Linked DNA regions of Homo sapiens: regions 2 and 3 are each linked to region 1. The links come from fine-mapping of genetic effects on gene expression. A gene starts in region 1. Each other region holds a variant in brackets. All regions are shown on one strand. Distances are from middle to middle. Region 1 holds the start of LINC00404 (long intergenic non-protein coding RNA 404). Region 2 holds the start of SOX1-OT (SOX1 overlapping transcript). Region 3 overlaps SOX1-OT (SOX1 overlapping transcript).

The links. PIP is the estimated chance that this variant, and not a neighbour inherited with it, causes the effect.
Region 2: its variant is the best candidate, but not a certain one, in a credible set for the expression of LINC00404 in tibial nerve (GTEx, PIP 0.72).
Region 3: its variant is the best candidate, but not a certain one, in a credible set for the expression of LINC00404 in amygdala (GTEx, PIP 0.60).

The regions. Positions count from the first base shown.
Region 1 is chr13:112,104,519-112,108,686 of GRCh38, forward strand. LINC00404 (long intergenic non-protein coding RNA 404) reads right to left here and starts at 2,111. Exons shown (of 2, transcript NR_047014.1): 1 at 2,081-2,111; 2 at 1,577-1,720. SOX1-OT (SOX1 overlapping transcript) reads left to right here. Exons shown (of 4, transcript NR_120392.1): 4 at 3,194-3,497. RefSeq lists enhancers at 1,641-2,260, 2,881-3,499.
Region 2 is chr13:111,971,096-111,975,263 of GRCh38, forward strand. It overlaps SOX1-OT (SOX1 overlapping transcript), which reads left to right and starts at 1,215. Exons shown (of 4, transcript NR_120392.1): 1 at 1,215-1,298. The variant CAGG/C (reference allele first, on the strand shown) is at 1,643.
Region 3 is chr13:111,977,943-111,982,110 of GRCh38, forward strand. The region is part of intron 1 of SOX1-OT (SOX1 overlapping transcript); the gene reads left to right. Among named protein-coding and RNA genes, the nearest start is that of SOX1-OT, 7.7 kb to the left of the region's middle. The variant A/G (reference allele first, on the strand shown) is at 1,908.

The DNA.
Region 1 (4,168 bases):
CACGCGGCGCGTGGGCAGTGCGCAACTTCTGTCGGCGTCCAGGCTGTACGGCCACGTTTCAGCCGGTGCCCCCAGGCCATGGACACCCAGCTCCAGGGTCGCTCTGCGCCCTTTCTCCCCAGCCCACCTTTCCCATTGGTCCCCTCTCCTGTCCGAGTGGCAGCGCGGCCCCGCAGGGAGCGACCCCGGGAGGGACAGTGACCGCACGCGTGGAGTGGGGACGGCGGGGCACAGGACGGTAGTCTAAGAGTGTTCGCATGGCCGAGGACGCTTTCGCTGCGAGTTTGGGGTCGAGGGGCAGTTCCCTCCCGGAGTCATTAACTTCGTCTCCTCGTGCTCAGGGACCAGCAACTTGGTGCTGCGGGCGCCAGAAAGAAAAGGGTAGCGCCTCGCGGAGCGCGCGGGGGAAGAGGGACTGCGGCAGCGGGACGCGAGGGCGGGAGGGGCGCAGCAGCGGGGAGCCGGAGCGCAGCGGAGGGGAGCGCTGGGGGGCGGGGAGCGCTCGGGCAGCCACCCTGTCCCCGTCTGGAGCCCCGCGCTGCGTCTAGGAGGGCGCAACACGCAGTCCCCGCGGGGGCCAGAGCTCGGAGCCCCCTAGTGCATGCCCCCTCTCCTCGCGCCCTGCCGAGGCCTCGGCCCTGCCTGCCGTGCCCTGGGCCTGGTTGTGCCCGGGGGTCCCCGCGGGCAGGGCGCGGGGCAGGCAGGGCGCGCGCGCCGACGCTCTTTTGTCTGATAACTAATTTGAGTTAATGCGATCTTTATGTAAAGCTAACAGCGGATAATTGTCTATTTTCTCGCCAACAGTCTCCATCACAATCACTTATCTGGAAACCTGCGGTTGGATTAATCGTTATATTCCCGAGATGAGCGTCGCTGCAATCCGCAGCGAACGCGGGTAGGGACCTGGAGACGCCTCCCGGGCGCTGGCGGGGCCGGTGTGGGCCAGCTCCGCTACCGCCTGAGACGCGGTGTGCCCAGGTGTTGGTGCCCGCGGGAGAGGGCTGTGGGGCGCCTTCCCCAGGATTTGCTTGACTTGCTTTTCGCTCGAGTGGGTGGTGCGCGGGTGCGGGAGGCGGAGGGAGGAGGAGGGGTGAGGGGAGGAGGGCCTGTGGGGCTGCGGACCCGGAGCAGCCTGGGTGGAGCGCGGCCTCGGGAGGCCCTGGGTGCATCGCGGCGGGGCCTGGGGGGGCCCAGGCGCCGGAGGAGCCGTCGGTGCCGGAATGCAGCGTGTTTCACTTGGGAGAAACGTTGCCCTCGGTCCCTTGCCTCCCTCCTGTTGTCTCGGTTTTTCTGGCTTCGTCCTTCGTCCCACCCACCCGTTCCCACCTCAGGTCCCTCCCCCAGGATCCCCTCCTTAAGGATCCAGGTCTCTGAAAATTATTGGCAACAGTTACACGCCCCACGATTGAAATCCACAAGAGAAGAGTCCCAGTTCTGCAGGCCGCTCCAGGGCTAGGGGTAGAGATGGTGGCAGGTGGTGCGTCAACTCTCTAGGGAAGAGGAACTTGCATTACAAAGACTTGTCTTTCTGAGCTGAAGTCAAAACGGGGGCGTCAAGCGCGCTCCGTTTGGCGGCGGTGGAGGGGCCGCGCGCCCGCGCTGTCCCAGCCGGAGCTGCCCTGGCTGGTGATTGGAGGTTTAACGTCCGGAATTCAGGCGCTTCTGCAGCTCAGATTTGCCGGCCAAGGGGCCTCAGTTGCAACTTTTCAAAATGGTGTTTCTGGAAAATAACAAATTCAGACTCAACTGGTGACAGCTTTTGGCTATAGAGAATGAAACTGCTTCCCTTTGGCGGTGGAACTCTTAAACTTCGAAGAGTGAAAGAATACAATGAAATAAAATGCCATAAGATCACTGGATTTTTCAGAAAAAGGAAGACCCCAAATTACTCCCAAAATGAGGCTTTGTAAATTCTTGTTAAAAATCTTTAAATCTCGAATTTCCCCCTACAACATCTGATGAGTGCTTTAAGAGCAAACGAGCAAATCCCACCTCGAGAATCAACAAACCCAAGCTCTGGCCAAGGCTCTCCCCGCGTTTTCTTCTCGTGACCTGGGGAATGTCCCGCCCCATCGCTCACCTGGCTCTTGTCATCTCGCTCATCTTGAAGTGACCCGTGGACAATGCTGCTCCCTGCCGCAGCTCCGCCGGTCACTCAGGCAGAACGGGGTATGCAAATGGCCTGGAGAGGCCGAGGCCGAACACTGCGCCCATTGTCCCGGGCGCTCAAAGCGCCGAGCAGCTGCGCAGACTTTCTGGGCTCGGACCCTCGGCCGCCACGCTAATGTCATCATTGCAAAACATCAGATTTTGAGAACTATGCAGTCTGAATTCATTAGCAGCCTTCTCGGCGAAGGTTCTTTTCCCCGTGACAAGTTTCAAAGTCCAGACCCCCTCCAACGTTGGTAGGGGTAGGAAGAGGAGGAGGGGCCCAGGGAGGGGGGTCTTTCGCAAGTGGGGCCTCGGGGGATCCCTGCTCTCCTTCTGGTGCATTCCGCAACTTTAAAAGCCTTCCTTGGGGTTCTGAGCGCGGATGTCTGACTTGAATGACCTGAGATTTGGACATATTCCCGTTTTCTCCCAAGAGTTGCTTTAATGTTGCGAGTTTAAATTCACTGAAAGAGGCCCAGATACCAAGTCGAGTGAATTTCATAGACATCATCTTCTGTTTTAATGATCGCGGCAGTGATCGTTTCTGAAGTCATACCCTTTAGGGTGAACTCACAACAATGCATGTCAGAGAGGCTGCGCGCCCTAAAGCAAAACAGTTAAAACATCAGGCCACGCTCCTCAAACTGCAGGATTGCAAGCAGCTCACAAACTTCCAGTCCCCACCCCAAGGTGAGGAGAGTCTCAGTGACTTGAGGACCTGCTTGCACTCCCGCTTTCCACGCCCGGTCCCCTACCCGCACCTGCCCAAGTGGTCTCGTTCCTCTAGAATCTGAATGGTGGGGAGGGGTGCTCCTGATGCCCCGGGTGCAGGGCGGGCACCAGCGAGCGAGACCCAAGGGCGCTAGAACCCAGGAGCGCAAACCACCGTTAGGGCCTGAGGGACGCAGAGGCGGGTGGAGTAGTGTTTCTCAGATTCGTGGGAGGCCGCAGGCGCCAGCAGAGGCAATTTTCCTCCCCTGAGCAATGCTAGTTCTCCTCAGGCCCAGGATCTCCACTAACGTGTCCTTCCACCTCCTCACAGGACTCCAAGCTGCTGTCCCCTCTCTGCCGCATCTGAGGCTGGGAAAACTTCCTAGGAGAAGGCAAGAGAAAGCCACCAGACCAGAGCCGAGGACTAAACTTTAAGGTCGAAGACGGCAGAGGGGCAGGTTCTCCCCTGCACACCCCAAGGCCTCTCCTGCACCCGCGAGGCCTTCCTTGAGCGCCCAGGCCCCCGAAATGCCTGCCCTCCTTCTGACAAAAGGAGGGGGTAGGATGTGAAGGGGTAGTGCAACCAACAATGTTTTTGTAAACACAACAACAGGGAAATACATGGAGGAAATCTATTTATTGGGTGTGTCATTTTTGGTGGGGGGCGGGATTGAAAGTGGCGCCATCTAGACCCAGGAAAAAGCTACGGGGTGGGCGGGGTAAGCGGGGGACTCTTGGTAAATGTGGATAATTTTGAACTGGGACACCATTTTGTTTCCTTCCTAGAGCATTGTATGATGTGGCCTGAAGGCTCTGGAAAGTCACAGATCACACCCAGCAGGAGGTTCTTCATGTGTGCCAGCCCCTGGCTGGGCCTGGGCAGCCTTGCCCCCATCCTCTGGCCCCAGCTCCTGCCACCCCACCTGCAGACAAGGCTGCCAAAGGCTAGGGACAGGGCTCCAAGCTAGAGGCCGGCTTTTTGGAGATGTGGCTGTGGGAGGGGAATCCCAGGAAGTTGCATAGAGAGGGAGTTTTTGCCAGCCTGGGTCACTGATGGCCAGTCCGGGTCACTGATGTCTCCCCAGGGGCAAGGGGACAGTGCCTGGCTAATTGTGGGTTTCAAAATCTGTCTGTTGAGGGGATGCAGAGGTCATCATTGGGGGGTGAAGCTGATGGTCCACAGAAGCTCTGGGCACAGGTTGGACCTCTTTCCTGCACAAAGAACCCTCCAGGGTGCCCAGTGGTTCTGGCCAGCGCCGGAGCCAGTGACGGTTGGCTTGTTCTGGCCTTCCTCCCCTTCTCACAC
Region 2 (4,168 bases), 130 kb before region 1:
TGCAGAACTAAACTGTTTCTGCCCGTTGGCAAGAGTGTCTAAAAATGTTTTACCAGAAGAAAACCAATATTCAAAATGTGCTTTTACATCAAATGGACAAGGGAAGTTGAAGTTTACAGTTTATAAACAGCAGGGCCCTTTTTTGACAAATGCAGTGAAGTTGTTTCACTAAAGAAATACTTAGCCAGGCGTGGTGGTATGCACCTGTAATCCCAGCTACTCGGGAGATTGAGGCAGGAGAATGGCTTGAACCCAGGAGGCAGAGGTTGTGGTAAGCCGAGATTGCGCCATCGTACCCCAGCCTAGGCAACAAGAGCGAAACTGTCTAAAAAAAAAAAAAAAAAAAAAAAAAACTTAGGCTCTGAGCTGAAAGATTAAACCAGAAAGCATTGCCCACCTGCAGGGGAATGCAGAATCCAGCTGCCCCAGGTGGATCCACTGCAGGACCTTCAGAATGAGAGATTCTAGGGCCAGAGAGAAAGCCTCATGCCTGCCTCGGTAACAACAGAACTTCCTCCAGCTGTCAGGGGCTGGCCTGGGAGGCTGCAGGAACCCACCCCCAGCTCCTGCGCACAGTGCACAGAGGCCGTCATGAAGTTTGCTGAAACTCGTGGAAGCTGCTGTTATCGGGGGAGACTAGTGTCCTCTCACTGAAAGATTCTGGAAATCGTCAGGTTCAGGACGCACCGTCCACCTGGAGCGTGAGTGGCAGGGATGTTCCAGGCAGTGCTTCCCAGGAGAACCTTCTAGAAGCCTTTCCAGCCCCTGACTAGGGTTGATGGACAAAGAGGAGAAAGTGGGGGATGAGCCTTCAACAAACTGACTCTGCTGGGGCTTCCGCTGACTTCAGTTTTCCCTCTCCAGAACCGGGGATGGCTGGCTGCAGCGTGGCCTCACTGCCTACACACCATTCAGCCCCTGTCTGCCTTTTTGTTTACACTGAGAACACAATAGGAGCTATGGTCCTTCCAATACATCATTTATAAGTGTGTCCTACCTCTGAATGCGCAGGCAGAACTGGCTGTGGGTGAATAAGCTCTGTGAATCTTGCCAAGACACTGCTTTGTTCAGCATTATTCTTCACAATAGATACCACACTTTGGAAGTAATTTTAAAAAGGGAATCAAAATAGTGGTACTTTTAGCCTTTGTTTCTTTTATACCACACTGCATTCTCTGTCTCTCATTCAGCCGCTCCCATTATTCTGACAAATTAAATAAACCACTCCATTGCAGAAAAGCGTGGGCAGGCAGGACTTCACTCCACTGCAGCCCCGGGAAGTCGAAATAAACATTGAGGTGGGTTCTGCTATAGCCATTTCGTCTAACTTAAGGAGGGGAAAAAATGGAGGGGGGAGACTTCGGAACTTGAGTGGGTCAGTAGCCCCCGAGAGCCGGCCTCTGCAGCAGGTCGCGACCACGGCGTGGAGGGCAGCGGTTTCCAGGAGCGCTAGGAAGTCCTTCCTGCGGTGTGGCCCTGGGAGCCCGGACGGTAAGTCACAGGAGGTTGGGGCACCGCAGAGGTGGGCAGCAGACTGCGCTGACGCCTGGGGCTCTGTTCCTGCAAGCAGCTTGGCTCTTCTCTCCTTTTTAAAAAGGCCTTCTTACAGGTGTTGAACCGCTGCCTAAAGAGGGAGTGACTC[CAGG/C]AGGAGGAGGACTTCTCTCTCCCTCTCTCTCTCTGTCTCTGACTCTCTGTCTCTTTTAAGCTCGACTTTGAGAAGTTTTTGACTTGTGCAATCACAATCTATTTATGAAATTCAGGCAAGGAGAGGACTGAAGAGGAGGAAGAAGAGACGGACAGGATTTTAGAGTGGGGTATTGCCTTCGGTTTTCTTAAGGTCCAGGATGTGTTACAAAACTGATGGGTGACACCCTTCTAACTTTTGGCCTTAAAGCATTTTTCTTTGTACAGGAGAAAAAACAAAAAGTGTGTGTTTGCAAAGGAATCTCTGTTAGATTAATGACTGATTTGAACTAGAATATACATGGAAGTCATTTTAGTTACAACTGCCTCTGTCCTCGTTTGTCGGGTGTGAAACGTGGGGTAGCCGTTTCTCTGAGAGTAGCTCCGTCTGGATTTGGAGAAATCCTCCTGACTGTTGTGAAAATCGTCTCCCATCGGCTGTGCCGGGACCCTCCCCTCCTTCCGTTCCTTTTCCCGCACCCTCTCTTAGCAGAACAGGTGGAGCGGGTGGAAAGGACAGCGGCGAGAGCGCGTGTGGTCAGGGGTCTCGGAGGCAGCCTGATTTCCTTATGAAAACAGAGCTCTGGTAAATGCCAGTTATGGGGAGGGCTTTGAAGGCTGCAGCCACCAGCTAAGATGGCCTCATCTAAAATGCAGGCGTCTGCGGCATGGAGGGGGCTCTGTGTTCCAACAGAGGCGTCCCCTGGCTTCGGAGTCAGAGGGCACTACAGGCACAGGGAAATATTGAGCCACAGTAGTTTGAACAGAACCATCAGGGTTCATCTTTTATTACCAAAGAAAGACTTGAAAAAGCCCAGGTGAAATTTTCTTCCATTGTCTAGGAAAATTCTCTGTAATTTGCCCCCTGGGAAATCCAAGTGCCTTGTGGCCGGGGCCCCCGCCCCACTCCCCTCTGTCCATCTCTCTCCTCCTCTCTCTGCGTAAATGTCTCCGGGGTCCCTGGAGAACCCAGGGGGCTGAGCAGGGGACGCTGAAGGTCAGGGTTGCCCACTGTGGCCTGACTTTTAAGCTAAAGAGGTTTTTCTTTCTCTTGTTGCCCTGTCAGGTCTAATTTGGCGGCATTATGCTGAGAGGGCGGGCCTGCTCCTGACAGGAGGGGGTTAAATGAGATTGCAAGCTTTGGAGGCTGTCAGCAGCCACTGCTGCCCGGGGATGTTAAATTGCGATTTAATGGTCAGCTTTATCTGGATGGTATCAGTGCAAATCTGCTGTTTTCAGCAACTTAATTGGCACAGTGTTTGCAGGAGTTTTTCGGGGAGGTAGGAGAGCTGACCAGATTTTAATGCTGAATTATTTAGAGATCAAACTGGCAGAATGTCAGTGGGAATCTGTCGCGTGTTTGGTTTTCTGAAGCACAGAAAGCTTATGAATGGGCAAGATGCTGAATTCCGCTGTGATGCCCGAAACTTTCTAAAAATATTCACAGGGTCTGATGCAGCTCCGAGTTTATTTATAGAGGGAATAAACAAAGAGTAACAGTTGCTATCACAACATATGTGCAGTGTCTGATTTGTGAGGGGGCAGCAAGAACGTAGAGGCAGCCGCTCTCAACAGAGCCAGTGTGGGCTGTCTTTTCAAAATTTTAACAGATGGGCGCCGCCTGTGGAGCTGCGTGTTCCCGGGGTGACTCACAGGTGACCCCACACTACACAGGACTGACGGTGCCTGCTTGTGTGTGCGTAAGGCATACACGGGTGCACGCCTGTTTGTGCGCTAGGTGTGTGCACAAGTGTTCATGGATGTGTGCATATGTGTACACGTGCGTGGGTATCCATGTGAGTGTGTGTACACAGATGTGGGTGTCGTGTACACATGTGCAGAGTATAAGTGTGTGTGCACATGCGTATACGTGTGTGGGTATGCATGTGTGTGTACACAGATGTGTCGTGTACATGTGTGGGAGTATGTATGAAAGTGTGTGTACACAGATGCGGGTGTCGTGTACACATGTGTAAAGTATGAGTGTATATGCACATGTGTACACGTGTGTGGTATGCGTGTGTGTACACAGATGTGGGTGTCATGTACATGTGTGTATGTAAGTGTGCATACACAGATGTGGGTGTCAGGTACATGTGTGCAGGTATGTATGTGTAGACAGATGTGGGTGTTGTGTACACATGTGTAAAGTATGACTGTGTGCACATATGTACATGTGTGTGGGCATGTATGTACACAGATATGGGTGTCTTGTACATGTGTGCAGGTATGCATGCAAGAGTATGTACACAGATGTGGATGTCATGTACACACGTGTAGTGTGTGCACATGTGTACATATGTGCAGATATGTGTGCGTACATAGATGTGGGTGTTGTGTACATGTGTGCAGTTATATGTGAGTGTGTACACAGATGTGTACATGTGTGCAGGCGTGTGTACATGTGTGTAGAGTATGACTGCACATGTGTATGTGTGTGGGTATGTGTGCCTATGTGTACACAGATGTGGGTGTCATGTACATG
Region 3 (4,168 bases), 130 kb before region 1:
CTCGCTTTAGGAAAAATCCAAGGTGTAAAATATAAATTTGCAGAACACATGCAATTTCTCAAACTATGAATTATTTTTTATGTCACCCTCACTCCATTTTTACCAGATCATTTATAACCTTATTGGATTTCAAAGAATCTAAGTAGATTACTTTCATGAACTCATCTATTGCATAATGCAAGTCCCACATGTAAAGTGATTGTGTTTTGGTGTTCACTTACCCAAAACCAGGAGTATGTATTTCTTAGTTAAATATGTGATCAGATCGAGATATGTAAAAAGGCATACCTATGCTGGCTCACCAAAACCCAAAGCTAAGAAGGAGCTGGCAGGGTCTGGAGGCTACTTGTTTAATGGCCACAGAGTTTTCCTTTGGGGTAATGGAAAAGTCTTGGCAACAGATAATGGTGATGTTTGTACCACATTGTGAGTGTGATGAATGCTGCTGAACTGTACACTGAAAATGGCTAAAACGGAAAATTTTGTGCTCTACATATTTTATCCCAGTAAAATAGAAAGGAAAAAGGGAGTCTGCGCCTGTGTGAGAGCCGTCAGCATGAGCTCCAGATTACGGGATGCATGGCAGTCAGTGGCTGCCACCTGTGGGTTTATGGACCATGGGGAGAGCTTCTTAGACTTCATTTCAGTCTTGATTTGGGGACCTGTTCACTCATTCCTGCCAGCTCCATTATAGCAATTCCCACCTATTCAAATATATGGAACTCTGGTGAAGACATGGGTTCTTTCCCCAAAATGGTACATAGCAAAGAACTTGCTTGGCCTTGGAGGGAATTCTTGGCAGCATAATTTGCAGCCGGAATTAAAATCAGCTGACTCTGGCCAAGCATTAATATTCAGCGAGCGACTGGATGAATAAGAGATGAATGAAGCCAAGAAACACCCAAACTGTTCCAGTGACGTTTTACTTTTTCAATGGCCCTGAGGAGAAGGTAGCCAGCAGTCCTGCCAGCTGCCACCTTAGAATGGGAGGCATGGCAGGGGATTCCAGGCCCCAAGGCACAGTGTAGACACCAAGGAAAGGAGAGACGCGGTGGCCGAGGACGGCAGCAGCCAGGGCAGGCCTTCCACAGCCACCCCATCTCCACCCACCCTCCATAAATGGCCTCTGAACCCCAACAGCAAGGCTCACAAACACACTTCTCTCCTACCAGGTGGATTGCTATTTGCCCCAATGCTTTTTTTTAAATACCCTTTGCAATCACTGTTGTAATTTGTAATTTAAATGTTACATAAGCCACTGAAATATGAATGCAACAACAACAAAAAAAAAGAATGAATTGTTTTTTTCTGTGAAAATTAAATTGGGTATTTTGGAATGACCAGACAAAATCAAATTGCTTTTAAAAATACACGAGCGTAAATTATTGAGGAAAATCATTGAAGCCTAAGACGACATTCAGATTGTTTGACACATGGTTTTAGTTCATTGTTTCACTTTGAGGAACCTTAAAAGACGCATCTTAGATAGGTGGTGTTTATACAAGAAAGAAGACCCCATAAGCCAGTCAGCAGCCCGAAACTCAAAGAAAAGACTTTGGCATTGAGAGGCTGAGGCAAGAGGATCATTTCAGGCCAGGAGTTCAATTCCAGCCTGGTCAACATAATGAGGCCTCATCTCTACAAATCATTTTTTTAATTAGCCAGACATGGTAGTGTGCTTGTAGTCCCAGCTACTAGGGAGGCTGACGTGGGAAAATCACTTGAGTCCAGGAGTTCGAAGCTGCAGTGAGCTATGATCACACTACTGTACTCCAACATGGGAGATAGAGAAAGAACCCATCAAAAGACATTGGACTTACAGCAAAATATGTATGTGTTTTACGTTAAAATGTTTCTGGTGTAGATGTGTATTTTTTTGATACTCTAACACACGGACCAGGATCCCA[A/G]TCCCAGGATCACAAACCAGAGGCCATCTGTGACAGCAGGGGGACATGAGGGGAGGGGAGGGAAGGGGAGGGGAGGGGAGAGGAAGGGAGGAGAGTGGAGCCGTCCAGGGCCCTCCTGACCCTCGGTTTTGACTATAAATAACTTGCTGACTCCAAGGTGTTCCATGGAGGTTAATGGAGGTTGCTATCAAGGTAGAATAGTCAGGGGCACGTGGACAAATGCCCCATAGAAGCATTAGAGGACAAGGGGCCAGATCCAGCTGCTGTGATGCTGAGAACAGGGACAGAGAAGGGACTGGGATGGACAGGAGTGTAACGGGAGAGAAGCATGAACGGGCAGCTTTCTGAGCAATGCCTAGCCACTCATCTACAGAATCCTCACTTAGCTATCTCCTGGATGGGTGTGTGTTCTCTGTTTTTCCATCCAGCCTCAAAAATGAGGCTTCTCCAGGTGCACAGAGGCACCCAGAGCAGCAGAGATGTCCCCAATCACTCCACAAGAGCCTAGGGAAGAGGGTGGCCTGAGTCTGGCCCGGAGCCAGCTGTTAGGTCAGGTCCCTGAGCTCTGGGCAGTAATGCCCAGGGGATGGAGCTTATGTCGAGCCCCAGAGCCCTCCCTGCCTCCCCAAGCTCATGACAAGAGAAGAAATGACTGAGCCTCTTCCTTACTCAGATTTCTTCTACCACAGAATACTGCTTGTGGTACCTGGGCTAAGGCACTCAGTGTCTCTGCTGTGTTTTGCTCACTGGTAAAATGAGGTCGCAGTAACACCTTGTTCCTGGGCATGGCTAGGGTTTCATGGTGGTGCTGGGGGACAGACTTGCACATGCCAAGTTGCACAGTCACAGATATAGAGCACGTGAGGCACATGCGTGCACACGTGGACACAGGTCCCCAGCATGTCTGTGTCGCACCCCTGCACGCCGTCCCACCCTGCTGGGCTTTCTTCCGCTGGCTCTGCTGTGGTCCTCTCGCTACTCCTGCACGGACTCAGAATCAACAACTCCATCTTCAGACTCATTTTTTCTCTTCATATTTATACCAAAAAAAAAATCTCATAGGCCACGTTACTTTTAACCTAATCCAGTCAAGCTCATCCGTGTGTGGATCTACGGCATCCATCTCTCTACTCTTTTGTTTTGGCCAAAGAGGAAAGATTTGGACAAAAAAAAGAGAGAAGGACAGGCCATCGGTAGGAGCCAGTATTTGTGTCCTGGGGCTGCCGTAACAAAGTGCCACAGCCCAGGAGGCTTGAACAGCAGAAATGTGTCCCCTCTCAGCTCTGGAGGCCGCAGACTGAGGTCCAGGTGTGGGCAGAGCCAGCTCCTCCTGAGGCTGTGGGGGACTCGGTTCCAACCTCTCTCCTGCTTCTGTGGTTCGCTGCAACCGGAGATGTTCTCCTTGCCTGGCCCATGCATGATCGCAGCTTCAGCCTTGGTCTTCTCCTGGCGTTCTCCCTGCGTGGTGCGTGGGTCCCGATTTTTACCCTCCATAAGGACATGGTTTTATGGGATTGGGCCACCTACTCCACTGTGACCTCATCTTAACGAATTACATCTGTGAAGACTGATTCGCACTAAGGAATGTGGTTACATTCACTAATTTTGGGGGGACACACAATTCAGCCTGTAAAAACGCAGAAAACACTTTGTACATAAATGATGAATTTCACAAACAAAGGTACCGGAAAGAATCGCCACATCCTAGGCTCTCCAGCACCTTTGAGCAGCGCTGAGCAAAGTGGGTGGAGCCCAGGACTTGTCCCTGACGCTTGCTGGCAGCGAGTAGGGCTCCGACTTTCTGCTTTATCATGAAATATCTGGTGGTTTGTCACCACGTTTCCTCTGAAATGAACTGGTACACTTGCTCTATTTCTGACTAAGGGAATCAGCTTTGTGTGTGGTCTCAGTAGAAAAGGACAATTGGACAAAAGTAGGAATGAGGCAGCAGTAGCCACACAGACCCCAGGTCACCCAGAGAACAGGGCAGAGCTTGAAAACTTGGTCAGTGACTTCGAAGTCTGCATCTAGTGTAGATGCTCGAGCTGGGATCCCCCACCCCAGGGAATCCTCAAGGCAGCTTTCCCGCAGTCTCAGATGCAGGGCTGGCCTCACCCAGGAAGCCAGAGCCCTTCCCAAGGGCTTCTAACCCACATCCAAGGTGAGAATCACCGCTGTGGGGGTAGAGGGCAGGTGCCCATACATGCCTGGCTCCAAATGACAAAATTCAGGAGGTGAGTGAGGCTTCTCAGGGAAGAGTC